4 linked regions of the Homo sapiens genome follow. The main gene of each other region encodes a partner of the protein of the gene in region 2 in a complex. Each region holds a gene or a part of one and is shown on either strand. Other genes may lie near its edges.

Region 1 (7,024 bases), on a different chromosome or scaffold from region 2:
CCATCCTTGCCCCTTTCTCCTCTTCAGTCTAAGCTCCGTGGCAGCCTTGGCACTAGTCACCCACTTGCTCACTGTGCCTGTGACTGTGGAGCTAAAGGCTTGAACCCTTTTCATCTACTGCCTCCACAGCCCCTGGCCTTGGGCTGCACGGCTGCAGACTGACCCCACAGGAAGGGGTTAAAGCTTCGGAGCTGTGTCTGGCTGTGGGTCTCCTCAGTCCCCAGGAGTGGCCAGAGAGCTAGCCCACGTGGCCAGGCAGTACCTCCCCAACCACCTGGACCCTCCCTTGAAAGGCTGAAAGTGACTCCTCTGCCCAGATTGCCCCGAGGAGTGTGCTGAGCAAGGGGGGAGCTAGGAGGGAGGTCTCTTCTGTCTCCCTATGACCTCTTCATCTCTCCTGGCCACCCCTCTCTGCAGCCCCTTCACGTGACTGCTGGCTCAAAATGGCGCTTCTCTCCCCTCCCTCCCCTGCTGGCATCTTGATTGTTCCAAGCAGAGCTCCCATCCACAATAGCTGCTTCCCTGCCTCCCTTCTCAGAGGACAACTTCTTACCAAGGACTTACCTTGAAAAGATTTACCCTGCACGGGATGCTCCCAGCCTAGGAGGGGAACTCCTGCGGAGAGGTGGGGGAGGATCTGCCAGCAGGCTCGGGAGAAAGGAGTTGGCTTCTGCCTCAAAGACAGAATTTGGGCTTGGAGTTGGAAAAAGAGGGAGTTTCCCAAGATTTGTAATCGTGTACTGCCATCTACTGCCCATCATAGTCCATGGCCTTCAATGAAGCACTAAAACAGGCTCCTTCCATCTTTTCTAGAGTCCTCTCTCAGGAGATGGGAGAAAACTTAGAGTAAAAATGCTCTAAGTATGGACCCCCGCCTTATTGTGAGGCTCATCTATAAGTCTCTGAATCAGGCTCCTGCACCCTGGACCACCCATCTGCATCCCCGCCTCACAGCCCCCCAGAGCAGGCCAAAAGTTGGTACCAAAAGAAGGAAGGCTGCCCTTGTGGATTCTGTATGGCCCTGGGGATGCAGGCGGGTTGTTGATCAATGACAATACGCAGACACAGTTTCTTGTCACTTCTTACCTGTTTCTTTCTTGGCTGTCTTCGAACCTTTGAGTTCTTATTCTGTCTTCCCATGTCTGCATCCTCATCATTTTCAATGAACTCCTTTGTGAAAATGCAAAAGGGAGAGAATCTTAAGACAGGAAGAGAGGTATGACTTTTAGGTATTAAAATTAAAACTCCCATCTTGACCCTGGGCTTCTATCCAGTAATGCTGAGTGTGAGTTGGGGGACAGTTAACAATCTGTGCGGCTCTCATCATCCACTCTTCTCAACATAGACATGTTTTCGAAAAGTCGTATCCATATTGGACCATCATACACGAGATGATGTTGGATCTTCCATTGTTCCAGGTCCTCATTCATGCATACAGCATTTATTGAGCATTTACTATGTTCCATGCTCTTGGGACACAGAATTGAAAGCCACATGCTGTCTGCTCTTAAAAGTTACAATCTAAGAAAGGCGACTAACAAGTGAATCTGCTAGGACAGACATCACAATCATATTAGGGATTTCACCGGTTAAGTTTTTCTGCTTTCCAGCCTTACCAGCAGGAAAAGGATAATAATGATACATGTTACATCATCACAAATGCTTCAAGTTAAAGGAAATTTTGGCAGATTTTTTTTTGAAAAGGAAAACAATCCTTTAACAGCGCAAACTTCGTTTCCTCTTTCCACCTTACGCTTTCTAATATTTTAGTCATAAAATGTTAGAGCTGAAAGCTCTAAAGTCTACGAGCTCTAAAATGTTTTAGTCCTAGAGTTTTATAGACTGGGGCACAAGTGCCCCTGGGTGAACAAAAAGTTGCAAGATAAACAGAACCTCTCTGGGGTACACAAAACTTACTAGATTTTTTTTTCCTAAAATTAGGATTTTTTTGTTTTTATACTGAAACAAATTCGGAACACAAAGTATGAATTTTAAGGATATATAATTTCAAAGAAATATCATGCAGGTTTCTGGGCCAGACCTCAATTACTCCTGACTGCCCTTGGCCACTGGGGTTAGGGAAGACATGAACCGCAATAACAGAGGACGGAAGTGAGGTCGAACGAGAGAATAGCCTTGGTTTGGGCCTTTCCTTTGTGTATGTGACCTGATCTCTGACTTGTCCTCTGAGCTGCATCCTCACTCTGGACTCCTTCTTTGGGCCTGACTAATAGGGAGTGTTCTTAGTTCAGGGGATTCGCCAACTTAGATTACAAGAAGATAATTATATTGAGGTGTGCAAGCATGGCTTTTAATTCAATTCTAAGTTTTTACTGACTTAGAATGGACTTGTGAGAAACCTACGTAATGTTTTGCTTTTCCGTGATGTTTTCATCCTCTATTCTAACTATCCAGTAGGACTTCAAATAAGATAGAACGTAAGTTCCATGAGGGAACAAGGTTTGTTTACTGCTGTATTCCCAGGGACTACAGGCACAAAATATATTTGGTTATATGAATGAATAAGCAAATATAAATTTATGTGGGTTTGTTGGTACTTGATCTTGCTTAAAGTTTTTTTTTTTTTTTTTGAGATGGAGTCTTATTCTGTCGCCCAGGCTGGAGTGCAGTGGCATGATCTCGGCTCACCGCAACCTCCGCCACCCAGGTCAAAGTGATTCTCCTGCCTCAGCCTCCCAAGTAGCTGGGATTACAGGCATGCCTCACCACGCCTGACTAATTTTGTATTTTTAGTAGAGATGGGGTTTCTCCATGTTGGTCAGGCTGGTCTCGAACTCCCAACCTCAGGTGATCCACCTGCCTCGGCCTCCCAAAGTGCTGGGATTACAGGCGTGAGCCACCGTGCCCAGCCATCTTGCTTAAAGTTAATCTGCATGGTTTTATAATGAGTTTCCTCAGGCTTTTTGGAGGACTGCATTGGACAGCACATATCATCTCCATTTCTGTCTTTGTTGTCTCAAGCCAGTGAGCCCTTGAAGCGAGAGAGAAGTAAGGATTGAGAGGAATACTCTCTCTTTTGTTGGATGGTCTGCAGTCTCCAAATTAGACAGCCTCCCTTCTCTGGTGTGGGCAGTGCTTTAATGAGTTTTTACATACAATGAGTCAGAAATTGCAGGACTCCACAGACAGAGGCTTGTATTAGCAGGTGTCTACAATTGTTACCTTCATTCTGAATGTCTTTAGAAATCAGCGTGCTTCAGGCAGAGCTATGCTCAATAATAGGTAGTAACTTTGAGCTGCTGTGTGTCAGAGTTCATAGAACCGTGACAAAACAGCTTCGGAGCATTCAGGTAGAGGTAAGACCTTGGAATGTCAGCAGGACTGCATTTCCTTCAACATCCACCTCCCCTTCTCCACCACGTCTCTGATATAGCACCCTCAGGGTGCATTTAGTCGGTGTGTGTTAAATTAAACTAAATGTGGCTTGAGGATACCTCTGTACTTTGAGTTCTTACATAACAAACTGCAATCTTAGTAAACTAAATGAAAGCCTAATTTAGAAGTATGCTTCTGTAGCAGGTAGCTGAGTCTCAGCCAATCACAGCAGCTGAGTGTCAATCAATCACAGGTGGCCTACTGATCAGACTGTGTTTAAATAAGGCAACACTGAGCTGTAACTAATCAAGCTGTTTCTGTACTCCACTTCCATCTTCAGTCCATAGATGCTGTCTGCCCACAGAGCAGAGCAGAGCTCTCTGAATCTCTTCAGGTTCTGAGGGCTGCCCAATTCACAAATCGTTCTTTGTACAATTAGACTCTGTTGAATCTAATTCATGTAAAGCTTTTCTTTTAACATGTGCAATAGATGCTGGTTGGCCTAACTTCCTCATTCACAAACACGTGTAACATAAGCATGCACACACAAACACATCCCTAGAGGACATCAAAGTGGCCACTTACCTCTGTAATTATTTTTACTTTTTCTTCCCTGGGATTCATTTTGGCTGGGATGGGTCCCTGACAAAGAACAATGAAGAAGTCAGGCATTTTGAAATCAATGAAATATTGCTTCTCTTACTATGGATATGTAAGAGGCTGGCCATGATGGTAAGTGAAGTGTTTGAGCTGGGTAGACTTTCCACTCACCAGGAACCCTGGCAGACCCCAGGATTGGTGGAGATAAGTGCCAGAGGAAAGGAAGGATGCCAGGTCTCCCTGTCCCTGGGAGCCTGCCTTTACTGTGCCCATAGAGTTGGATGGCACTGGTTGGAATCCAGCTCCAGAAGGACCATTTTACAGCTCATCTCCGCTACTGCCCCTCTGCACTCTCTGCCCTTGACCTTGGCCCTTATTTCACCAAGTAAAAAGACAAGACCAGAGAGGGCTTCTACATCCCCTTCCCCTCCCACCACATGGAGCCACCGCCACCTCCTCTGCTTCCACTTGCTACTATGAACCCCCATGTCCCATGGGGCCCCTCCTTGAACAGTGCACTAGGCCCCATCATTCCTCCTCCTCCAGGCCCTTGATCCTGACAATTCTTCACTTTCATCTGGATTTTCTTCCTGCTCTATTGGCTCATTCCTACCAGTGGAAAAAATGCTGTAATTTTTTCCTTCCTTTAAAAAAAGGCCCCTGCCCCCTACACTTTTTCTTTTGAGACGAAGTCTCACTCTGTTGCTTAGGCTGGAGTACAGTGGCACGATCTCGGCTCACTGCAACCTCCGCCTTCCAGGTTCAAGGGATTCTTCTGCATCAGCCTCCTAAGTAGCTGGGATTACAGGCGCATGCCACCACGCCCGGCTAATTTTTGTGTTTTTAGTAGAGACAGGGTTTCACCATGTTGGTCAAGTGGGTCTCGAACTCCTGACCTTGTGATCCGCCTGCCTGGGCCTCACAAAGTGCTGGGATTACAGGCGTGAGCCACCGTGCCCGGCCAAAAAAAGCCCTCTCTTAACTTTACTTCTCTTTCTAGCTGTTGCTCAATTTTTCAACAATTATAGAAAAATCCCTCAAAACATTCCCTCTCTTTCCAGTTTGTTTTTTTATTTTTGGGGTCTAGCATACTCTGCAACTGCTTTTGCCAATGATTCATCTCCAGTGACCCCTGCGTTGCCATGTCCAGTGATCAGTTCTCGGCCCTCATCTTACTTGACTTGGTCAGAGGCATTTAAAACATTTTCTAAGTTTTTAATTTTTGTGGGTACATAGTAGGTGTATATATTTATGGGGTACATGAGATATTTTGGTACAGGCATGCAAAGCTTAATAATCACATCACAGAAAATTGGGTGTCTATCCCCTCAATCATTTATCCTTTGTGTTAGAAACAATCCATTTATACTCTTTTAGTTATTTTTAAATGTACAATTAAATTATTATTAACTATAGTCCTTTCATTGTGTTATCAAATACTAGGTCTCATTCATTCTTTCTATTTTTTTTTTGTATCCATTAAACAACCTCCCCCGACCCCTGACTACATTTCCCAGCCTCTGGTAACCATCCTTCTCTTCTCTATCTCCATGAGTTCAATTATTTTGATTTTTAGATCCCACACATAAGTGAGAACATGCCATGTTTGTCATTTGCATGTTCTCACTTACTTGTGGGTGAAATAAGCCAGGCATGGAAGGGTCAGAAACATTTAGTGATGAAAGTGACCCATCCCTTCTTTTGAGATACTTTCTTCAGTTGGCTCCTGGAACAAGTTCTTTCTTGGTTTTCCTTTTACCCACTGACTGTTCCTTCTCAAACTCCTTTGCTGGTTTCTCCCTATCTCTCAGACCACCAAAGATAGGAATGCTGTGGGGCTTAGCTCTGCCTGTTTTCATTCCTCTGGCCATCTCATTATGTCTCTTGGTTTTAAATACCATCTGCATGCTGATACTTCCCAAATTTACATCCTGGGTCCAGACATCTCCCCAGAACTCCAGACTCAAGTATCTGCTTGATGGACACCTTCACTTGGCTTTACATACCTCAAATAAAGTTCTTTGCTTTTACTCCTGAGCCTGCCTTGTACTGCAGTTTTCCTGTTGTAGTAAACAGAAATCCATTTTGCTCAGGCCAGAAACCTTGCAGTTGTTCTTAACTCCTTTCTCAGTCTCACATGAATCCATCAGAAATCCTGCCAGTTTTGGCTTCAGATTATTTTCAGGATCTAATCACTTCTAAACATTTCCACTGTTATCACCATGGTCAAACACCATCTTCTCTCTTGAAATCTACTGCAAGAAACTCCTAATTTCTCAGCTTGCCACATTGCTGGGCTACCATATTCTCTGCATTGAAGCCAGTGCAAATTGATGAAAATTTGAGTGACATAATCACATTGCTTCACTCAAAATCCTCCAATGATTTCCCTTTGTCAACAGAGTAAAACCCAAAGTTTTTTCCAAGGCCTACAAGCCCTGTGTGATTTGCACTTGAATCCTGTTGCCTCAGGACCTTTGTAGCTGCGGTTCCTGCTACCTAGTTCTCCTTTTTCCCAAGATATCTGCATGGCTCTTGCTGTTTCACTTTCTTCAGGTCTCAGCTGAAATTTTATTATCAGAGAGCTCTTCTCTGACCATTCGTAATACAATGATCTCCTCCCAACACCCTCCTGGAATTCCCTAACTACCTTACAATGATTTTTTCACAGTACTTATTACCACTCAACATACATACTTACTTGTTAATGTCAGCCCATATCCATTAGAATATAGCTGCAAGAGGGCAGAAACATTATTTTGTTTATTGTTTACCCCCAGAGACTAGGATTATGGGACATCATGGACATTCAATATATACTTGTCGAATGAATGATTAAGTCACTGACTTATTGGCTGTGGTTCCATAGCCACATTCTGGGACTATTTAAAGCTCCACTGTTTCTTCTAGGCTGCTGTGAGGATTAAATGAGAAAACACATGGAGAAACAACAGGCATATGGCTGACAAATCATAAGCCCTTTCTAATATCCTTGGAACCCAAATCTTAACTGGGACTTGGTCAGGTCATTTAAGCAGCTCATCTGAGATCAAGGTTTCACTGACCCTACAGGGGAATTAGCATGTTA
Region 2 (7,661 bases):
TAAAAGTGCTTTAGGTTCCCTGTATGTTTAAAATTACTATCTTGCTTTGTTTTCAAAACTTAAAGCCCTTATAGGCAGCTGTAAGACTACTAAGGACGAAGCAATAGTGTTTAATAACTCCACTTAGGAAAAAGGTTTCTACCCAGGATGCGAGTGTACTTAATCATCCACCAAGTAGCTGTTGAGCCCCTGTCAGGTCTAAGCAGCACTCAGCTGCCCTTGCCTCCTATCGCATCTGCACACCTGGCTTGTAGAGCAGGGTACTAATGAACAGAGCCCAGATTCAAGATGAAGGGTTATCACTCTTCTCCACCAACACTGCCTGAAGCCACCTGCAATTTTCCATCCAGTTCTCCACTCACAGTCAGCCTCCTGCTCCGATATCTACAAGTTGCGTGTCCTAAAATTAGGCAAATAATTTATCCACCTGAAAAATGGGGATAACAGTACCCTCATCATGGGGTTGTTGTAAGGATTAAATGAGATACATCATAGGTGAAATGCTTAGCACAGTGCCTGCCACACAGTGAACAGTTAACAAATGAGTTATTACTGTCACAAGTCTAAAGAGAGGTCCTTTAAAAAGGTGAAGACAGGTGACTGGCAGAGTGCAGTGGCTCAAGCCTGTAATCCTAACACTATGGGAGGCCTAGGTGGGCAATCACTTGAGGCCAGGAGTTCAAGACCAGCCTGGGCAACATGGTGAAACCCCGTCCCTACAAAAAATTAGCCGGGCGTGGTGGCATGCAGCACCTGTAGTTCCAGCTACCCGGGAGTCTGAGGTGGGAAGATCACCTGAGCCTAGGAGGTCGAGGCTGCAGTGAGCTGTGATCATGCCACTATACTCCAGCCTGAGTGACAGAGTGAGACCCTGTGACCAAAAAAAAAAAAAATAAAGTGTGAGGACAAGCACAAATTCATCCCCTATACTGGAAAAACAGCCTTGAACACATGCTATAATAATGATGTTTCAAGCATAGCTTTATTTTGGAGAGAAAATGCATTAACAGATGGAGTACTTACATGAATAAAAGACAATCCAGTCCAAAAACTTTAGAGTTTCAGGCATTGAATACTTGGCTTTCTTCTGTCCCAGTTTATCACTGATTTAACTTCCCTACTAATTCATCAAATCAACAATTTAAATATAAAACAGAGCTCTGTTTATATATTAAAATAGCAAATATATTTCTCTGTACTTTTTCTTTCAGATTACTCGTAATTCAGAAAGGAGAGCTTTTGGAGAAATAAAGGTTCAGTAACCGCAGTTAAGTCCTAGAGTTCAAGATCTCAGCTGATGACTTTTTTACTTACTAATACTGAGCCTTAATCAATTTGAGAAAAGATCTTCTTAAGAAGGGATAGGCTGGGCACAGTTGTTTACACCTGTAATCCCAGCACTTTGGAAGGCCAAGGTGGGAGGATCACTTGAGCCCAGGAGTTTGAGATCAGCCTGAACAACATAGCGAGATCTCATCTCTACTAAAAATAAAAAAATAAAAAAAGCAAGCTGGGGGAGCACGCCTGTGGTTCCAGCTACTCTGGAGGCTGAGGCAGAAGGATCCCTTGAGCCCAGCAGATTGAGACTTAAGTGAGATATAATCACGCCACTGCACTCCAGCCTGGGTAACAGAGCGAGACCTTGTCTCAAAAACAAAAAAAGAATAAAAAAAGATTAAAAGTACTGCATATCTATTGGGGTTACTCTCAATTCACACAATCGGAAAATTTTAAAAACTTTTTTTGAGATCATGAACCACTTTAAGAATCGGCTGCTATGAACTCTCATCTCAGGAAAAGGCATATTCACAAAGTTTTGCACTCAATCTTAGCGGGTCACAGTCATTCAGTGAAGTCATCCATGTCAATTTTTTTTTTTGAGACAGTCTTGCTCTGTCGCCCAGTCTGGAGTGCAGTGGTAATTACTGCAACCTCTGCCTCCTGGGTTCAAGCGAGTCTCCTGCCTCAGCCTCCCGAGTAGCTAGGATTACACCATGCCCGGCTATTTTTTCTATTTTTAGTAGAGACTGGGTTTCGCCATTTTGACCAGACTGATCTTGAACTCCTACCTCAAGCAATCCACCCGAGTTGACCTCCCAAAGTGCTGGGATTACAGGCGTGAGCCACGGCGCCAGCCAAACGTCAAATTAGATTATAAAATATTTCCACTAAATGTGTAATTCTAGAATTAATCATTTTCTGAAAAAAATGTTAATTATCCCTACATATGACTCCTAAGAAGTGAGCATAACCCCTCCCTCAATAGCTTTCCACCTCCAATTCAACACAGGAGGAATCCTGGGTTTTTAGAATTCAGGTCAACAGAGAAGGGTCTTAACATAGTCACATTTAGTAAGATAGACCTTTGGCCTCTCTTTAAGTGAAAGTTCAGTGCAGCCAAGGCACTAATTTCCACCATTGTCTCGACTTAATTTCGTCTTGGGCTGCAAGAATTCATTATTGCTCTTTGCATCACTGTTGTCTGGGACCACTTCAAGTATTTTCAAAGGTTTGATACCGTTCCACTTAAACTCTGAGACCCGGTTTTCTCATTTACCTGACAGTGATAGTAACAGCTACTTCTCAGGGTTATTGTTTAGAGAATGGACGTTTATGGAACACTCAGCAGTGTCTGCACACAGTAAGTGCTCAATAAGAGTTAGCTATCATTATTACGTCCTCACCGGGGCTGTCCCCTTGAGGTTGGATCACTGTGGACTCCAGGAGCTGGCACATGGTACCCACCGTCCGTGACTGGGGTAGGCCTGGGGCCGGAGGAGGGCCCTGGAGCCCTGGGAGTCCCGGGGGGCCTGGTCGACGGGAAAGTTCCGAAGGTGGCCAGGGCTGCCTCGGTGGAGTTGAGGCCCTCTGTCGTCACCGCCGGGGTGGCATCGGTCTGGGCGCTCACGGAGGCCCAGCAGCCCAGGAGCACCACCAGGAGCGGCGGGAGACCTCGCGGCCTCATCTCCCAGGGAGTCCCAGCGAGGCCCGCGACATGGACAGCGCGTTGCCCGGCAACCGCGACAGCCAGGCGCGGGGCATCACGGGAAGGGGCTTGCGAAGCCGCGAGAAGCTGCCGGAGACTGACTGGGGCGAAGCCTGGATGAGGCAGGGGGCGGATCCCGGATGAGGCCGGAGGGCGGCGCCTGGGTGAGGCAGCGATGGCAGGCACAGGGGCGAGCACTAGTGAGCGGGTGTGAAGCTGGCGTAAACGAGGGGCGTGTAAATCCCGGCTGTGGTTTCCAACCGGTCCGCGGCGCTTGCTTAAAAAATGCAGATTTTCTGTAGTTCCAGCTACTCGGGAGGCTGAGGCAGAAGAATCGCTTGAACCCGGGAGGTGAAGGCTACAGAGAGCCGTGAGCGTGCCACTGCACTCCAGCCTGGGCGACAGTGTGACACTCTGTCTCAACCAAAAAAAAAAAAAAAAAAAAAAAAGACGGATTTCCAGGTACCACCTCAGGAGATCCTGAGTCAGTTAGTCTAGGGCAGGACCCAGGAATCAGTTTTTGGGGGATTTTTTTTGAGACAGGGTCTCACTCTGTCGCCCAGGCTGGAGTGCAGTAGCGCGATCTCGGCTCACTGCAGCCTCGACCTCTGGGACTCAAGCAATCCTCCCACTTCAGCCTCCTGAGTAGCTGGGAACTCAGGCGCGCGCCACCATACCCAGCTAATTTTTGTATTTTTTTTTTTTTTTTTTTTTTTTTGTAAAGACGAGGTCTCCCTCCGTCGCCCGGACTGGTATCGAACTCCTGGTTCAAGTGATCCACCTGCTCCAGCCTCCTGAGTCCTGAGTAGTTGGGATTACAGGCGTGAGCCACCACTCCCAGCCAGGAATAAATATTTTTAACAAATGTCCGGACGCAAGCAGATGAGTTGGACGGAAATTTAGGAAGCGCCGTCCCAACGCCACTAACGTGGGTGTTTGGAAGGAGCACAGGGATCTGTGAGATCACTGTCTCTGAATTTTCTCTATCCCAGACTCTGTCAACACTGGCTTCACCTTTTTATTTTAGCTGCATCTCACAAGGTTGCCAGATAACTTCTGTCTGCTGTATTGTGATAAAGGGGACAAATGAACACTTAATACCTTTTATTATTTTTTGTAGAGAGGGGGTCTCACTATGTTGATCAGGCTAGTCACAAACTCCTGGCCTCAAGTGATCCTCCCGCCTCAGCCTCCCAAAGAGCTAGGATTACAGGCATGAGCCACCACGCCAGGCCTAAGAACCTATTTAAAGACAAAAATCTTTTACAAAAATTAAGTAAAATAATTTAGACATCTTAAAGGGGAAAACAAAGCAAATCCACTGTAATGCTACAAAACGACCTGGAGACCCTACGATTTAGGAAACCCTCTCCATTCTGAATGGGCTTATTTAGGAGGTACCCAAGCCCAAGAATGTTGGCTGCACCTTTGACACTTAATCTCCATACAGTTCAGAAGTAGATGTCGAAGTACTTAGACGTGGCCAGGCACAGTGGCTCACACCTGTACTCCCAGCCCTTTGGGAGGATCGCTTGAGTCCAGGAGTTGAGACCAGCCTGGGCAACATGGTGAAACCACATCTCTACAAAAAATACAAAAATTAGCCAGGTATGGTGGCACATTCCTGTAGTCCCAGCTACTCAGGAGGCTGAGGTGGAAGGATCGCCTCAGTCTGGAGAGCTTGAGGCTGCAGTAAGCCATGATAGTGCCACTGCACTCCAAAACAAAAAAACCTTAAACATAACACAGTATTTATTCAAGAAATGTATATACCAATTCAAAAGGATGTCAAACAGTATATATATCTAGTTTATTAAATGTATTTAGCAAAACTAAATCATCAAAGTGATATCTTTAGCACCTTCCTGTGGCATTCCAGAGACAGTGTATAAAAATATAATTGAATCACTCAAATGTGTAAGACAGATACTTCTTTTTTTCTGCAAAGGATTGCTTTAGCATCTGACTGAAATTCTGGACTGCTTTTAATAACTGATTAAATGCTTCCCCTTTTAAAAAAAATAACCAAAAGTAGGCCGGGCATGGTGGCTCACGCCTGTAATCCCAGCACTTTGGGAGGCTGAGGCGGGTGGATCACGAGGTCAAGAGATCAAGACCACCCTGGCCAACATGGTGAAACCCCGTCTTTACTAAAAATACAAAAATTAGCTGAGCATGGTGGTGGGCACCTGTAGTCCCAGCTACTCAGGAGGCTGAGGCGGGATAACTGCTTGAACCTGGGAGGCAGAGGTTGCAGTGAGTCGAGATCACACCGCTGCACTCCAGCCTGGTGACACAGCGAGACTCCGTCTCAAAAAAAAAAAAAAAGTATATTTTCCAAACCTTCATCTCATAACTTCTAAAACCAGGGCCTGTTTGTTTTCCTTTTTAAACCTCTTTACTTCCAGCCCTCTACTTTCTTTCCTATTCCTTAATACCTGTGAACCATTTTGTTCTATTTTCTGTTTTGAAATTTTAGACTGCTGGATTAAATTTTGATAACTCATCCTTTAGCTTTATAATTTTTTTTTTTTTTTGAGATGGAGTCTCACTCTGTCACCCAGGCTAGAGTGCAGTAGCAGGATCCCGGCTCAGTGCAACCTTTGCCTTCCAGGTTCAAGTGATTCTCCTGCCTCAGCCTCCCAAGTAGCTGGGATTATAGGCACCTGCCACCAAGCCCAGCCAATTTTTGTATTTTTAGTAGAGACGGGGTTTCACCATATTGGCCAGGCTGTTCTTGAACTCCTGACCTCAAGTGATCCGCCCACCTTGGCCTCCCAAAGTGCTGGGATTACAGGCGTAAGCCACCACTCCCATCCAGTTTTATAATTTTTGTTATGGTTATAGGACCTCTGAGGTCCTCTTCAAGTCTGATATCCCATTATTCCAACCAGGACCTGCTATGATATGATTTGCCAATTTCACCGCCTCTTTTGTCCAATCTCAAACAAACACGTGGTAGATGGCCCCAAAGTAATTTTATGATATTTGACTCTGAATGAGGATTGCACCTACCCAGATACAGTTTGCAAACATTAGGAACACTGGAACTTTTCATTTCACAGGTGACCCATTTCTGCCAGCCTGTTTTCATCTTTCAACCCAGAACACCCTTTCTCCCTTCCTTTTGTCCCTGGCCTTAGCAGGTTCCCTCATTAGGATGGAAGGACACAAGAGTGGCTAAGATCGAGCTCCATATTGTGCCCAAAACCTCAACATTTGGTTTGTGCATAAATGTTTGTGATTTCAAATATCCATCTGTTTCTCCAGGATTATTGGCATTCACAATTCCTTATAGTGTATGCTGACATTGGGAGGATCAAGACAATTCAGCTTTTTAGAATTCTGTGCTGAGAAGCTGCCATATATGAGAAGTCGCCATATATGAGAAGCCTGAAAGGAAAAAAAATCAAAGATAGGAGGAGTATGTAAGTAGGGAAAAAAAACTAAGGCTAACTTCACAAGGTAGTGTCAACCACTCTGTCTTGCTCTTTGGTGTGGTTTGAGGTGAATTGGTTATTATTGTTGTTGTTCTTGTTATTGCTGAAGTCATGGCTTCCAACCTGTTTAAAATTAATAAATTAGCTGGGCATGGTGGCACGTATCTGTGAACCCAGTTACTCTGGAGGCTGAGGTGGGAGGATCGCTTGAGGCCAGGACGTCAAGGGCTGCAGTGAGCCATGATCACACCACTGCAGTCTGGCCTAGGCAACAGAGTGAGACCCTGTCTCAAAAGAAAAAGTAGAAATTTTTTTCTAGTGATTAGTATATCTATTTTTATTAATCTCTCCCAAACATTTCACAAATGAGGTGGCAGAGTCACAAAGCTTCCTAAAGGGGTTGCTTTAGATCTACAAAGGGATCAAGACTGTGTGAAGACGGAGGATTGGCTGTACCATTTTGACTGAAGTAACTAGTCGGGTAATTGATTTCCAGATCAACGCCCAGAAGAAAATAATCCTCAACTGCTCTCATTCTCCCAGTCCCCACGTACCTCATCAACCACTGAGTACTATTCTTGTTCTTTTTTTTTTTTTTTTTTTTTTGAAATGGAGTCTTGCTCTGTCGCTCAGGCTAGTGTGCAGTGGAGCGGTCTCAGCTCACTGCAACCTCCACCTCCCAGGTTCAAGCAATTCTCCTGCCTCAGCCTCCCAAGTATCTGGGACCACAGGTGCCCGCCACCATGCCTGGCTAATTTTTGTATTTTTAGTAGGACGGGGTTTCACTATCTTGGCCAGGCTGGTCTTGAACCCCTGACCTAGTAACCCACCCGCCTCGGCCTCCCAAAGTGCTGGGATTACAGGCGTGAGCTACCGCGCCCAGCCTATTCTTGTTCTTTAAGTGTTTTCTGAAACATTACGGGGACAGAAGGACTATTTGAGCAGACTTCACATTCTTGAAAGGTCTCACATTTGCATTTGACCTTTTCTAAAAGAAAGTCATACATACAGTCACAGACATTCACCAACAGGAATGAAATAAGAATTCCTTGTTTACCATACAGTTGTTATTTTTTTTTCTTTTTGGGTTTCTTTTTTTTTTTTTTCTTTGAGATGGAGTCTCACTCTTTTGCCCAGGCTGGTGTGCAGTGGCCCAATCTCAGCTCACTGCAACCTCCACCTTCCCAGTTCAAGTGATTCTCCTGCCTCAGCCTCCCAAGTAGCTGGGATTACAC
Region 3 (7,061 bases), on a different chromosome or scaffold from region 2:
AAATTCAGCCGAGTGCCTGCACCAGGCATTTCAAGCAACCGGTGTTCCAAGTGTGGCCCCTCCGCTGAAGAGCCAAGAGGCAAAGACAGAAGGAAAGACCTATAAGGCCTTTGAGAGAAATGATTTGGGGACTTGGAGTCACAGGGACCCTGATTTGAATCCCAACTCTGCTTCCAACTCACTGTGATCTTGGGAAGTCGGTTTGTCTCTGAGCCTCGACTTCCCCATCTGTAAAAGGGGGCTAGGAGCACTGGTCTGGGGGGTCACTGTGAGGAGCCCAGAATCACAGGGGCTCAGGACTTCGTGGGGGTGTAAAGAGAGGGCACATGGGATTATTATTGTTACTGTTGGTCTCAGCCAGCTGCCCTCTCTGCCTCTTACCTGAGACGGGGCAGAGCAGGACTCTAAGAAGTCCCCTGCCCCAGGACCCAGGACAAGCTCCTGGGAGGAGGATCTGGAGACCCCAGCGCCAAGTCTGTATGCAGGATGCCTGCCCCTAGTGTGCACCCCAGGGCTCCCCACCCCTTGAAGGTGCTGAGGGTGGACCCCGATGACCAGGGCAGAGCAGATGGAGGGCTGTCCTCAAGGAGGCCCAGCTTCCTTAGAGATGAGTGAGCTCCCTGTCTAAAGAGAAAAGCAAGCAGAGCCGGACACCCACTTATAATGAGCTTCTGGGTGGGAAGTGGGGAGCAGACTGTGGGGCCAAGGGGAGAGGCGTTCAAGGAAGACTTCACAAGAGTGGGCTCTGAAGGCTACATAGGAGTTCTCTGGGCGGATAGGTAGGAGATGATGAGCTAGGTAGAAGGAACAGCATGTGCAAACCAGGAGGCATGAAAAAGCAGGAGCACCCCAGGAATGACTTCAGCAACAAGAATAGCTGCAATGTATACACCTACTATGTGCCCATAAACTTTTTAATTAAAAAAAAAAAAAGAATAGCTACAAATGTATGGAACTTTGACATATATTATCACATTTAATCCTCACAACAACCCCCTGGGTGTGATGAGGAAACCGAGGCTCCGAGAGGTTAAAGGACTTTCCCTGAGTCACATAGGATTCCACTGCAGGCAGTCTGATTTTGAGCTGGAGGGGTGAGGGGTGGAAGCTGGGCTGCAGAGATCGCAGGGCTGGATGGAAAGAGATGCATGGTAGACCTGCAAGGCCCTGGGACCCGGAGCTGAGCTCTGAGGCTTCAGTCTCCTGAGGTGCAGGGTCCAGGCTGGCTGAGGCCTCCAGCAAGAAGGGCCCAGACAAATGGCTTGGCCAGGCCAGCATCTTCCTGGACACCTGGTGCCGCTGTGAGGGGGCCCTCATCTCCCAAGAGTGGGTGCTCACAGGCGCCAACTGCTTTGACAGGTGGGTGCACAGCCAGGAGGGGTGGTGGAGAGGGGCTCCAGGAGGGTGGCCCCCAGCCTCTCCAGCTCTCCACCTCCCCTTCACCTCCTCTCTCCACAGTTGGCCTTGGTCCCACTTCAGTGTGACCTTGGGTCCAGATCGACTGCAGATGGACTCTTGTGAGATCAGGTTACCATGGGGGAGCTGCTCTTGTCCTCAGCAGGGCCCGAGGGCTCTGGGTTTGGTAGCCTGGTCCTGGCACAACTGGCAAGGGGCAAGGCCTCCGTCGCTCACCAGCGCTGTGCAGGCCGTCCCCCTGGCCACTCAATCCCACTGTTCCCTCTTCCTGAGACAGCTCTGCTGGGGCCAGGGGTTTGAACCCGATTTCAGTAAGGATGGGAGCAGAAGCCTGGGATGGTTGAGAGACTGGGGGAGGCAGATGGCCAGGGTGGAGCTTGGGACCCTGCAGGGGCTCTGGCCAGCTGCCCGGCAGCACCATGGCCATAGGCATGCAGGGAAGAGGGCTGGCGCTGACACCTGCTCTGCTCAAGCCAGCTTCCAGCCTCACCCCTGCCCAATGGCTGACAGCCCCGCCTGCCCAATGTGCTGGAAGCTTCCCTGAGGGGACTGCGTGGGAGTGTACCAGAGGACAGAGCTGTACTAAGAGTGAGGTGGGAGCGAGGAATGTCTAGGAGCCCAGGAAGGCATCTGGGGGTGGAGAGACTTGGCACAGGCACAGGCAGGGAAGCTCAGCAATATATGTTAACAACCAGCATGGCTGGACTGGTGCAGATCGGCTGGATGTCAGCTGGGCTGAGGGTCTGCCCCACCCCATTGCAGATCCCTACATCCCACCCCAAGAGCTGCAGAGTGTCCTGCTGAGATCGCTGTGTGTCAGCATCTGCAGAAACTACCTTCTCCTCCAACCTGACTGTCCTGACCTGAAGGACAGCCTGCCCAAGGACTTCTAGTACACCAGGCTCTCCACTGGGCCCTTGAACTGGTGGTAAGGATTCCAGCAGGCCCTATGCAAGCCCCTATGCAAGCCCCTGAGACCCCTCTCCTAAAGTCGCTTCTAATGCCACTAGACTTGTTAAAGTTAGGCCTGGTCACCCTCCCATCCTATCCTGGAGTCTTCCATTCCCCAACACCCAGGGGTCGGGCTTATTTGTACCCCTGAAGGCCACCCTAGAACTTCCCACCCCTTGGGGAGACTCCCCCATTATGTCCTATTTGAATGTGGGGCCACCTTTGGTATAGCCAGGTCTTAAACTACTGGGAGCCCCCAGTTATTCGATAACTACAAGCATTTTGCTGAAAACTAACTTGTGTGCAACACCGAGCCTCAAAGGCCAAAGGGAGGAAATAATTGGGTGAGACTGATAGAATGTGTGGGAGAAAGCACTTTAACTGGAAAGAGATGGACAGAGCGGGGGAAGAAGGGAGTATGACCCCCTCTCCAGGAGGGGAAATGGGCCCTGTCTTGGGCTCTGGGTGCAGCACTTGGGCCACCAGCCCACCCATCCCCTCCCCCAGCTGCTCTTGTCAGATGTGTGAACTGGTTACCCGCTGCCTCCCTCCCCTGATCAAATATCTTTGCTCACTAGGCAGGGGGTGGTTCAGTGGGTGCAGGCTGGGCTGAGACTGCTCCTTCCCTCCCTCGTGCAGATGGTTGATGGGACTCCCCTAGTCTGCTCCCAAGCTAGAAGCTGCAGAATGTGATGACCTGGGGTCCCTGCTCGGAGCCTGGCCTCCCGGGAGTCTACACACCTGTGAATCCCTTCATTTCCTGGATCCAAGATAATGTCTCCAACGTCTCCTTTGACACCTCTGCCAACAGATGCTGTTGGGGCTGGCCCAGGACAAGACAGAGGCAGTGAGGGTTGTTAGCCTCTGGAGTCCTGGGTTTGAATCCTGACTTAGCTACTTACCTGCCTTTGCCATCTGAATCTGTTTCCTCCTCTGTAAAATGGAGATGTCTTCAATTATTCATTTATCAACAAGTTAGTAGTTACCAAGTGCTTACTCTGTGACAGGCCACTAAGATACAAGACTGTATCTTGACAGATTCGTGGATTTTGGCTAGCAACTCCCCTGAGCGCTGGCTGATTGGGGTGCCAGGCGCCGCCCGCTGCGGGCCTCAGTTTCCCCAGCTTCGAACTAAAGAGCGATGGCTTGGATGTAAGGATTCTTGAGGTCCCTCCCAAGTTTGTTTAATAAACTTTTTCGAGGGCAAGCGTCTCCAAGCCACAGGGGCGCATCCTTTTCACCTGCTTGGACGCTGCTTGGCCCCAGCTGGGGAGGCTCCTCCGAGCACCCGGCATTCCAGAGTTAGCCCCGACAGCTGTGGTCACGTCGCCCGTGCTCTGCAGCGCCTCCCTCCGCGTCCTCGCGGTGGGGCCACAGCGACATCTAGTGGCTGAATGTATTTTAAACACTCGGCTTGCTGAGGGCGTGAGTCGGAGCGCTGCTCCCCAGGACTCAGCTCTCATTCGCCTCTGCGCTTCGGCGGGGACGGGGAGCCGGGCCGAGTCAGAGTGAACACACACTCCCTGCGCGTGCAACTGAGTCGAGCGGTAGGGCTGGCTTTACCCGACAGGTCAACGCTCCCGCCCCAGCTCTCGGTCATACCTGCCCTAAGGAGGGGTGGAGCCTCGGCGTGGATCCCCGCCCCTTGTGCCCCGCCCCCTTATAACGGCGCCCGTTCACTGCGCCTGCGCATGCCACACGCGCACTCGCGTGGCCTTCGCGAAGGTGTCGCTGCCAAGAAACGTGTCCTGCGCGCTACGCCGTCTGTTTCTAGGGCAACGCCGGCGTCTCTTAGCAACCGCGCGCGGCCTAGGTGGGTCCCCCCGGCACCCCCAGACCTGCCATGGCGACCGCGAGTCCTAGCGTCTTTCTACTCATGGTCAACGGGCAGGTGGAGAGCGCCCAGGTGAGCGGCCGTGGACCCCGCCGGGGCCCGCCCCCCAGCGTCCCCCGGGGCCCTTCCCGCAACCCCCCGGGCTGCCCTGTGGCCCCCGGAGAGCCACGTCATTCCTCTGAGCCTCTCGGTTAGGCGGGGGAGGGGAGCCAGCATTGGAGAGCTTGGCGCGAGGTTGCCCGGATCCTGAGTCCCGATGTGCAGGAATAGAAGCAGACCTCGAGATGTTGAGCTAGTACCGAGGTCACACTCGGGCAAGCCTGTGGGCCCTCGCACGGGTCATGCCCACTTGCTTGGATCACTGGCAGGAGCCTCCTGGGGTTAACGCGAGGAGCCGAGGCTTGGCCGAGTTTCCAGCATTTGCGCTGTGTCCCGTGTGGAGTTACTGTCCCGCGTTCTGAATCCCCAGATCCTTGAACTCGGGTTCGAATCCAACCATCCAACAATGGTGGTGGCCTGGAATTGACCCAAGGAAGGTGTGCCTGCTAGGCCCGAGGGACGCTATTCCCCATCCCCCTACACTTTAGAGGAATCATTTATTGTAAATATAAACCAACGCTCACCAAGTCCTCAATATGTCCCAAAGTCGGTGCTCCGCACTGGTCCACCCTTACAGCCTTACCAGATAGGCACTACTAACACCCCCATTTTACAGCTGGGGAAATATACCAAAGGAACTGGCCTGTCTGGGAATTGAACCCACGCCTATCTGACCTCAAAGCTTCACTACACTGTCCTTCCAGGCTGTTGGAGGTGGTGTTTATTATTATTTTATAATATTATTGTGAGGATTGACTGAGACGGTTTGGGTAAGGCTCTGACAGGGCCTGATGCTTTGTAGGTGTCTCCTGCCTTCCTATTTCATCAGGGATACTACTCCATGCTCCCACCCTGTCCGCCTCTGCCTTAGCCTAGTGCCTAAGACCGTCTTTCCCCACTCTCCTGTCCTTTCCTATTAGGGGCTCTCGGCTGGGCTGAGTCACATGTGTCTGTGCTCTCAGCATCAGCGACCCCCCCGCCACACACACACTGACAGTCACACTGTTCCTCCCTGCTCTGCTCTCAGCACCTCCCTCTTTTCAGGGCCTCAGCTCCAGCCTTGCATATGATGGCTTCCTGGGTTCTCAGACCTTTCACTTCAGCACCATTCCCTTACACCAGTGGTCCTCAACCTTTTTGGCACCAGGGACTGGTTTTGTGGAAAACCAGGTGGCGAGGGATGGTTTTGGGATGATTTGGGGACATTACATTTATTGTGCACTTTATTTCTATTATTACCTTGTAAATAATAATGAAATAATTATACAACTCACCATAATGTAGAATCAGTGGGAGCCCTGAGTTTGCTTTCCTGCAACTAGATGGTCCCATCTGGGTGTGATGGGAGACAGTGACAGATCATCATGCGTTAGATTCTCATAAGGAACATGCAACCTAGATCCCCCACATGTGCAGTTCACAGTAGGGTTCGTGCTCCTATGAGAATCTAATGCCGCCACTGATCTGACAAGGAGGTGGAGCTCCCGTGGTCATGCGAGCAATGGGGAGCAGCTGTAAATACAGTTGAAGCTTTGCTTGCTCGCCTGCTCCTCACCTCTTGCTGTGTGGACCCGTTCCTAACAGGCCACGGACTGGTTGAGGACCCCTGCCTTAGACCTTATCTGTGCCCAGCCCTGTGCCAGGCAGTGGGGACACAGAAAGGCATTAAATCTCTTCTCTACTCATGGTCTAGAGGAACTGACAGACTTAGACACAGGCAATCATTGCTTTTATGGAGGGAAGCACGGGGCTAAGGGAGCCAAGAGGAGACCTTAAACCAGCTTGAGAGTTAGAGCAGGCTCCCTGAAGGGTAAGTTTTGAAGGGTGAGCAGGAGTTTTCCGGATGAAGTAGGAAGGACAAATCAGACAAGGCAGAGCCTGAGCAAAAGCCAGGGGCCGTGGCACCTGGGAGTCTCCCGTGGACTCCCGCTTCTTGGTCCTCAGCCTCTCCTCTGAACACATCTCCAGCCGTCTCTTAGACCCACTCCCAGGTGTCTCACGTTCAGAATTCCCCTTGGCTGCACCTGCCTAGCAAATGCATTGGCCTCAGCATGAATACCAGTCGACAGAATCTGTCTGTGCTTTTTTCAGTTTCCAGAGTATGATGACCTCTACTGCAAGTACTGCTTTGTGTACGGCCAGGACTGGGCCCCCACAGCGGTAAGCTGGACTCTTGGGCCTCCCTTACCGCCTTCATGACTTTTGGGGTTTCTGAAGGTGTCATATCCTTCCCCTCCCCATTCAGAACAAGTTAAGAGGTAGAGACTGAGTTCAGGGGAACCCAAACATGAGTGTTCCTGGTAAAGCGGGAGCAGAGGACACAGCCATGGTTGGACTCCCTGATCCATCCACCAAGACTGCACTCAGAAGCCCTACCCTGTGAGCTTCCCCGGGGCAGCAAAGAGCAACACCTGCAGTAGGAGGCAGGCCCCAGTGAGCCAGCCTGGACGTGGCTGAGCTGTGGACACTCTGGCCAGTCCGCTCACCATTTGGCCTCTCCTCAGCCAGTGGGGAGGACCTGGAGTAAAAAGACAGAGTAGGAGCTCTCCTTCCAGGACTTCCCAAGGGGTAGCTTGCCTCCACCAGGTGAGGGACTGTGGTGACAACTTCAGCCCGCTCTGTGCTCTGCTGTTTGCAAAGCACTTGTTTCATCTTCATAGCAGTTTAAGAAAAGGAGACTGAACTTATTTAAGCTCTCTGAGCCTCAGTTTCCTCATTTGTACAACTGAGATGATAATCCTTCTTTTCCCTTTATTGATTG
Region 4 (7,024 bases), on a different chromosome or scaffold from region 2:
AGGGAATATGTATATGTAGGTTCAGAAAATATTGACATTATTTTATTAGCAGTGTTATTAAACCACTTAATTATAAACAGTAAACTAGTTTGTAAACTAGCTATTATGTGAAAGCTAATTTTATTTTAAATTTGTAATGATTTAAGTCAATTTTCACTGTGAATATTAACAGGTTTCTAATTAATTGTTTCTTTTTTGTCTTTGTCCTGCTGATTAAATTTGTTTGGTGTTATATGACGTGTTAGTCAAGGTGAGTTAGTTTAATGTAAATATAATATTTGGTGTTCAAAAATTAGTTTGATTCCTTGGTTTGTTTCTCTTAAAACTGAGTCTGAATGGTGTAATTTGTAATTCTACAATATGTTTTTGTGAAATAATCTCCCATGACTACCATTTAAAAATTGTCATTGATACATAGCACTAGATGACCTTTCCATTATAAAAGCACTTCATCCCTGAATGGGGTCACCCAGCACATAACTGTTGGCTAATTTGTAGCTCTATAATGAGGACTGCACCTTCCTTTGTCTCATTTAGTCAGGGTAGACAAGGTTATACTATACTAAAACCCCCAAATCTCAGTGACTTAGTGTCACACAGGGTTATTTCTAATTAATACAAAGTCTGCTATGGCAAAAATGGGGGACCATTACCTTTCACTACCTTTTTACTATTGATATAGCAATCTAGGCTACTTTTTTTTTTCTTTTGTTTTGAGACAGAGTCTCACTCTGTTGCCCAGGCTGGAGTGCAGTGGTGTGATCTCGGCTCACTGCAATCTCTGCCTCCTGGGTTCAAGTCATTCTCCTGCCTCAGCCTCCTGAGTAGTTGGGATTACAGGCGTGTGCCACCATGCCCAGCTACTTTTTGTATTTTCAGTAGAGACAGGGTTTTGCCATGTTGGCCAGGCTGGTGTCGAACTCCTGAGCTCAAGTGATCTGCCTGTCTTGGCCTCCCAAAGTGTTGGGATTACAGGTGTGAGCCACTGCGCCTGGTCTGCAATCTAGGCTACTTCTGTGCTGTGGTCCCACCATCTTAACATGAGGCTTCCTCAGTCACCACAACAAGGGAAGAGAAAGCTGGAAGATTACTCACTGGCTCTTTCAACGTTTGGCTCTGAAATGACACAGATCACTTCTGCTCACAGCCTATAGGCCAGAACCAGTCATAGACTACACCTATGTGCAAGGAGGCTGGGAAATATAGGGGATCAGATGAATATTTGTTGAACCCACTTTCTGTGTCATGGTTTCTAACATTACTGACATGCAGTGTGCTACTGGTACCACACTGTGGGCTCTCTCTGATCTTCTCAATTTCTTGCCTTCTTCCCCTAATCTATAAACGTTTGCCAGGCCCAGGGAAGAGAGGGAGAATTCTTCCCTGTTTAAAAGTTCTCTTCTGACTGTTCTCTGCATTGAATTTTAGGCACCCTTTTCTGTTGACGTTTTTTCTTGCTTTATAGATGATATTCCACTTAGTCGTCCTAAGAAAAAGAAGCCCAGAACAAAAAACACACCAGGTAAGACGTTATTCTTTGTTGTGTGGGATCACAAGTTTTCCCAGGACCTCAGGCGTAGTAAACATCACAGATAAGGGAGAATTAAGGCCCCAGCAGCCCCGAATCTCCACTTCATTGAGGATAGAATTAAGGCCAGTTTGAAGCAGTGGAATTCCTGGTGGTGGTGAGGTACAGGGCAGTGGGCAGCCTGAGGAGTATCTGGACGCATTCATGGAATAGAAGGTGGTGCCATCTAAGCTCCTATTTCCATGATATTCCTGGACTCTTTAAGGTCTTTTATCCCCAGACAACATACATGGTTTTAAGCTATGATTGATTCCAGACCCTTGAACAAGATACTGAATTTAGAAACACAGAGTTCTTAAATCTCACTTCAATCAGAATATCTCTACATTACAGCATGAGTCTGAAGGCATGGCCACATCATCATTTAAATAGTAAAGCTTCAGTCATGAGCAGAACTCGTTTTTGTCTTAGTCATCCACTGATAATCCTGGAAGTTGCATCCGTAACTCTAAACTCAGCACATCTAGAATCCATCGTTGCCTTTAAGAATAAATAATTTTTTTACGTCTCATGATTTTCTGTTAATGGAACCTACCATTTTCCCAGCCCTCAGGCCTGAAACCTCAAGATTATCTTTACCTGATCCTTTAACTTCACTCTTTACTTGAGACCTCTCACACTCCTAAAAGGTTTCTGTGGTTGCTGCTCCTTTTTTAAAACAAACAAACAACAACAAAAACATAAAAGGAATCATACATACTATCTTTGTTTCTTAATACATAGAGTTCTATGTATTCTTAAACAGTGACTTCATTGTATTACATGATAAGAATGTACCATAATCACTGCTCTGTTATTTATTTAGGTTATTTCCAATTTTTCACTCCAACAATGTTGCAGTTCTGCATAAAATAGTGGGTGGTAGGGAAGAAGTACTTCTGTAGGATGGATTGCTAGCAGTGGAATTGCTAGGTGCAGGATGTGTGCATTATTAGTATGACTGACTCTGCTAAATTACCTTAAGGAAGCTTTAGTTATTATCTTGCTACCTGTAGAGTCTGAGAGTGTCTCATTCTCTAAATCCTTAACAACATTGGACAATAATCAATCTTTAAAATTTTTTTGTTAATTTAGTGGGGGAAAAGTAGCTTATTTTAGTTTACATTTCTCTATGTACTACTGAGGTTAAACATTTTCATTTGTTTATTGATACATTTCTATTTTTTTTTTTTTTTTTTGAGACGGAGTCTTGCTCTGTTGCCCAGGCTGGAGTGCAATGGTGTGATCTTGGCTCCCTGCAACCTCCACCTCCTGGGTTCAAGCGATTCTCCTGCCTCGGCCTCCTTGAGTAGCTGGGACTACAGGCGCATGCCACTACACCCGGCTAATTTTTGTATTTTTAGTAGAGAGGGAGTTTTGCCATGTTGGTCAGGCTGGTTTCGAACTCTTGACCTCATGTGATCCGCCTGCTTTGGCCTCCCAAAGTGCTGGGATTCCAGGCATGAGCCACTGCACCCAGTGCAATTTCTATTTCTTTTGTGAAGAAGACAAGCAAGGAAGGGAATGCAGTCAGGTATGTGTTAAAATTCTTTTAAAAGATTTCATGAGGGAAGAAGTTGAAGTGAATGACCAAATGAAGAGACTTATAAATTACCTGCTAACTCCAATTATCCATGATGACTTTATTATTCTTTAACTTATTAATGAAGGACTTTACTATATAGAGGCTGATGAAAATTCTTAAGGCAAGAGGCAAGTAAGAGAATTCTCTATGGTATCAGTTTTTATTATGTTTTCCACCTTTTTCAAAGTTCTAAATGTTCTGAAGCAATTTCTCCTCCTCCTGTCTTTTGCTCTTCTTTTTAGCCCCCTCGTTTTTTCTTCCTCAGCCTTTCTTATTCCTTCATTTATTTCTTTTCCTAACTTAAAGCCCAAAGTTACAGGTGAGGAGGAAGGAAAGATTTGGGGGATAATTAGTTCTGAAAGAGATGGGGTTATTCTATAGGAAACATTCTAGTTACCTTTTCCTCCATCTTTTTAAGATTCAGTGATCTTTGCTCAAGTAATCTCATTTTTTTCTACTCTGTTTTTCTATAGCAAGTGCTTCTTTGGAAGGCCTTGCTCAGACTGCTGGTCGAAGGCCCTCTGAGGGCAATGAGCCATCAACTAAAGAACTCAAAGAGCACCCAGAGGCTCCTGTTCAAAGAAGACAGAAAAAGACAAGGCTACCTCTTGGTATGTGAAGAAACCAAGGTTAAGTTGTGATAGCACTTGTGATTTTGATGACATGATAAAAACCTCTCTGCTTTCATTTCTTTCCCCCTATCCATATCCCACAGGTGGTTTCTTGCTTTTATGTTTAAAATATTTACCACTAGAATAACTCCAATGGCTTAAGCCAAGAATACTTTACAGGTCTCTTTTGATCATATATGTATAGATTATGAGAGGAGGGCAACAAATACAGGACTAAACAGAAAGTTCAGATCTCAGTGCATAGAAAAATCTAGTAAATGATGAAATGGACATTTCAGATTAGTGGGGAAATGGTAGATTCTGTACTAACAATAATATAGTGAAACAACAGCTAACATTTGTTTAGTCTTTCTATGTCCCAGGCAGTTCACAAGGTAAATAAAATACTATACCATTTTTTGGCCTATCAAATTGGCAATGCTTTTTTCAAATTATAAAATCCAATATTGATGGGAAATGGGTGCACTCATGCTTTGCTCATAGGAGCATAGATACAGCCTGTCTGGATTTCTGGGAATAGTAGTAAATTCAATAGCTGCAGTAATTAAAGGATGTTAACTGCAGCGTTATTTATAAGAGTAGAAATTGGTAATGACCCAGATATTTAACGGTGTGATACTGGCTAAATAAATCATACTTCATCCATAAATAGGAACCAGGTACCCATTAAAAGGATTGTTAGGGTGACACAGATAATCATCAGTTGTGTATTATTAAATCAAAGAACAAAGGTTATAAAATAGTATGTATTGGAGGATCCCATTTTTGTAAAATATACTATGTTAATTTCTTAGGGTTGCCATAACAAATTACCACAAACTGTGTGACTTCAAACAACAGTTTATTTTTTCATAGTTCTTAGGTGAGAAGTCCAAAATCAAGTTGTCTGCAGGACTATGCTCCCTCTGAAGTCTCTAGAAAAGAATCCTTCCTTGTTTCTTCGAGCCTCTTTTTTTTTTTTTTTAAGATGGAGTTTCACTCTTATAGCCCAGGCTGGAGTGCAATGGTGCGATCTCAGCTCACTGGAACTTCTGCCTCCCGGGTACAAGCGATTCTCCTGCCTCGGCCTCCTGAGTAGCTGGGATTACAGGCATTTGCCATGATGCTCGGCTAATTTTGTATTTTTTAGTAGAGACAGGGTTTTGCCATGTTGGCCAGGCTTGTCTTGAACTCCTGACCTCAGGTGATCCGCCCACCTCGGCCTCCCAAAGTGCTGGGATTACAGGTGTGAGCCACCGCGCCTGGCCATTTCTTCTAGCTTCTTATGGTTGTTGACAGTCCTTGGCATTGTTTGACTTGTGGTGGCATAATGCCAATCTCTGCTTCCATCTTCACATTTTTCCTTGTGTGTCTGTGTCCACATTTCCCTCTTATAAGGATATCAGTTGTTGGATTTAGGGCCCATTCCAATCTAGCATGACCTCATCTTAACTTGATTTCATCTGCAAAGACTCTTGTTTCCAAATAAGGTTACACTCACAGGTATTATGAGTTAGGACTTGAACATATCTCTTTTTGGAGCACAGTTCAACCCAGAACGTAAATATGTACATACATCTACATAGTAAAAAGAATGGAAGAATATAGCAGTGTTACAGTGGTAGAAGTTTTAGAAGGAGGAAGTATGATTTTTAAAATTTTCTTCCTTCATTTATTTTACTAATTTTTTATATTTTGAGCATTATGACTTTTATAATAATTAGAAAAATGACAAAGAGTTGTATTGGAGCAAAACTCAGGGAAGGAACAAAGATGGGGAGATTAGTGCTCTCCTATTAACATCAGCCCTTATTAATAATTTATTATAATTTTCCTAATTACTTGTCCTTCTAGAAAACGGCGTGTCTTGATTGGATGGAAGAATTATAGGAGTAGAAGGGCAGGAACTAGAAAAGTCAGGAGAATGGAGCATAATTTTGGAAGGCAAGTTGAAGTGGGATGCCACAGTGCCTGGGGGCACTGAGGGTCTATGAGAACGAAGGGGCGGATGATGGCAGAAGAAGGAAAAGAGACAGAAATGGTGCTCAGACTAGCTTTAACTACTCTACAGTTTATTTCATTAGTGGCAGTAAATGTAGTTTCATTAAAAGTGCCCTTTTAGTAATTTAGTTAAGATACAAGTTTAAAAATCAAGATGGATACCAATACCTAGTTTTATAATTTGTGAAAAGTGTGTTTACAGAAATGACTTTTTTAGAAAATTCAGGACCCAACTAAGTTTTGAATCAAAAAGGACCTGTCATTGCCATTCCAAAGTACACCAAGCCTGGCAGGTTCACCTTTCTAAGTTTCTGGATTTAAAAATTGTGTTTTTATTTATTTTGTTCAGGATGACCAATGGTAGGCTCTACTGCTTGCATTATATTTCCAGTCGAGGCTGTAAGTATTTTATTACAATAGAATTGTAAGGTCTTGAAGGTATTCCAGGGAGCTAGTATTTCCAGGTAGGAAGAGTAGCTAGTGGATTAGAAGAAGGCTTCACTGACTCATTTAAACTTAATACCTACCCTGTGTGCAGAAAAGAGTTAATATAGCAGACCTGAGACTGCTATCCTTGGAAAAGCCTGCTGATAAGATTGGCCGTTAGCTGGCATCTGGGAACTTGGATGATAAACAGCTCCCTACACTGATAGAAAACTTTCCCTAAATTATAAGGTGACTCACGGTGCATTTGTGCACACATAGTGATTTTTGCTGAACATCTGTTTCCCTTCCGGGCATCCAGAATTTTGGTATGTGCTAGGCTTATGTGACTAGCCCCTAACCTTGGGCACTGTCTCTGATGAGCTTCTTTTGTACAACATGTGTCACATGTGTTGTCACAACTCATTACTCTCCAGTAATGTTAGTACATCCTATTTGACTCCACTGATAGAGGACTCTTGGAAGCTTGTACTTGGTTTCCTCTGGACTTGGTCCATGTACTTTTTCCTTTTGCTGATTTTGCTTTATATCCATTTGCTGTAGTAAACCATAATTGTGAGTGTGATGATTTCCAAGTCCTGTGAGCCCTTCTAGAAAGTCAGCGAACCAGGAGATAATCTTGGGAATCTTCAGCACAGCCTGGGTATTGGGTTACTTAATTTTTTTCCATATTGTTTGGCATTACAATTTCAATTTTTACATTGAGAGTTTAGAAGTATAACATTTTTAAAAAATTAAAAATTTGTAAGATAGTGAAAACATTTTTGCCCAATTAAAATTCTTGAAGTTCTTTTCTCTTATACAAGTCTTGTACAT

Evidence for each region.
Region 1: TCTN1 (region 2) and CC2D2A share a complex: the UniProt entries of both Homo sapiens proteins name them as parts of the tectonic-like complex.
Region 3: TCTN1 (region 2) and B9D1 share a complex: the UniProt entries of both Homo sapiens proteins name them as parts of the tectonic-like complex.
Region 4: TCTN1 (region 2) and TMEM237 share a complex: the UniProt entries of both Homo sapiens proteins name them as parts of the tectonic-like complex.

The regions. Positions count from the first base shown.
Region 1 is NC_000004.12:15,472,869-15,479,892, reverse strand, and holds part of CC2D2A (coiled-coil and C2 domain-containing protein 2A), read right to left. Parts: intron 6,672-7,024; exon of another isoform or gene 6,638-6,671; intron 3,979-6,637; 5' UTR 3,961-3,978; coding exon 3,922-3,960; intron 1,171-3,921; coding exon 1,087-1,170; intron 682-1,086; exon of another isoform or gene 671-681; coding exon of another isoform or gene 565-670; intron 1-564. UniProt on the Homo sapiens protein: Component of the tectonic-like complex, a complex localized at the transition zone of primary cilia and acting as a barrier that prevents diffusion of transmembrane proteins between the cilia and plasma membranes.
Region 2 is NC_000012.12:110,609,487-110,617,147, reverse strand, and holds the start of TCTN1 (tectonic-1 isoform 1 precursor), read right to left. Parts: upstream 3,020-7,661; 5' UTR 2,966-3,019; coding exon 2,746-2,965; coding exon of another isoform or gene 2,685-2,745; intron 872-2,684; exon of another isoform or gene 836-871; coding exon of another isoform or gene 796-835; intron 401-795; exon of another isoform or gene 244-400; intron 1-243. UniProt on the Homo sapiens protein: Component of the tectonic-like complex, a complex localized at the transition zone of primary cilia and acting as a barrier that prevents diffusion of transmembrane proteins between the cilia and plasma membranes.
Region 3 is NC_000017.11:19,359,719-19,366,779, reverse strand, and holds the start of B9D1 (B9 domain-containing protein 1), read left to right. Parts: upstream 1-4,056; 5' UTR 4,057-4,210; coding exon 4,211-4,273; intron 4,274-6,391; coding exon 6,392-6,460; intron 6,461-7,061. UniProt on the Homo sapiens protein: Component of the tectonic-like complex, a complex localized at the transition zone of primary cilia and acting as a barrier that prevents diffusion of transmembrane proteins between the cilia and plasma membranes.
Region 4 is NC_000002.12:201,633,487-201,640,510, reverse strand, and holds part of TMEM237 (transmembrane protein 237), read left to right. Parts: intron 1-245; coding exon 246-250; intron 251-1,465; coding exon 1,466-1,522; intron 1,523-3,625; coding exon 3,626-3,763; intron 3,764-7,024. UniProt on the Homo sapiens protein: Component of the transition zone in primary cilia. Required for ciliogenesis.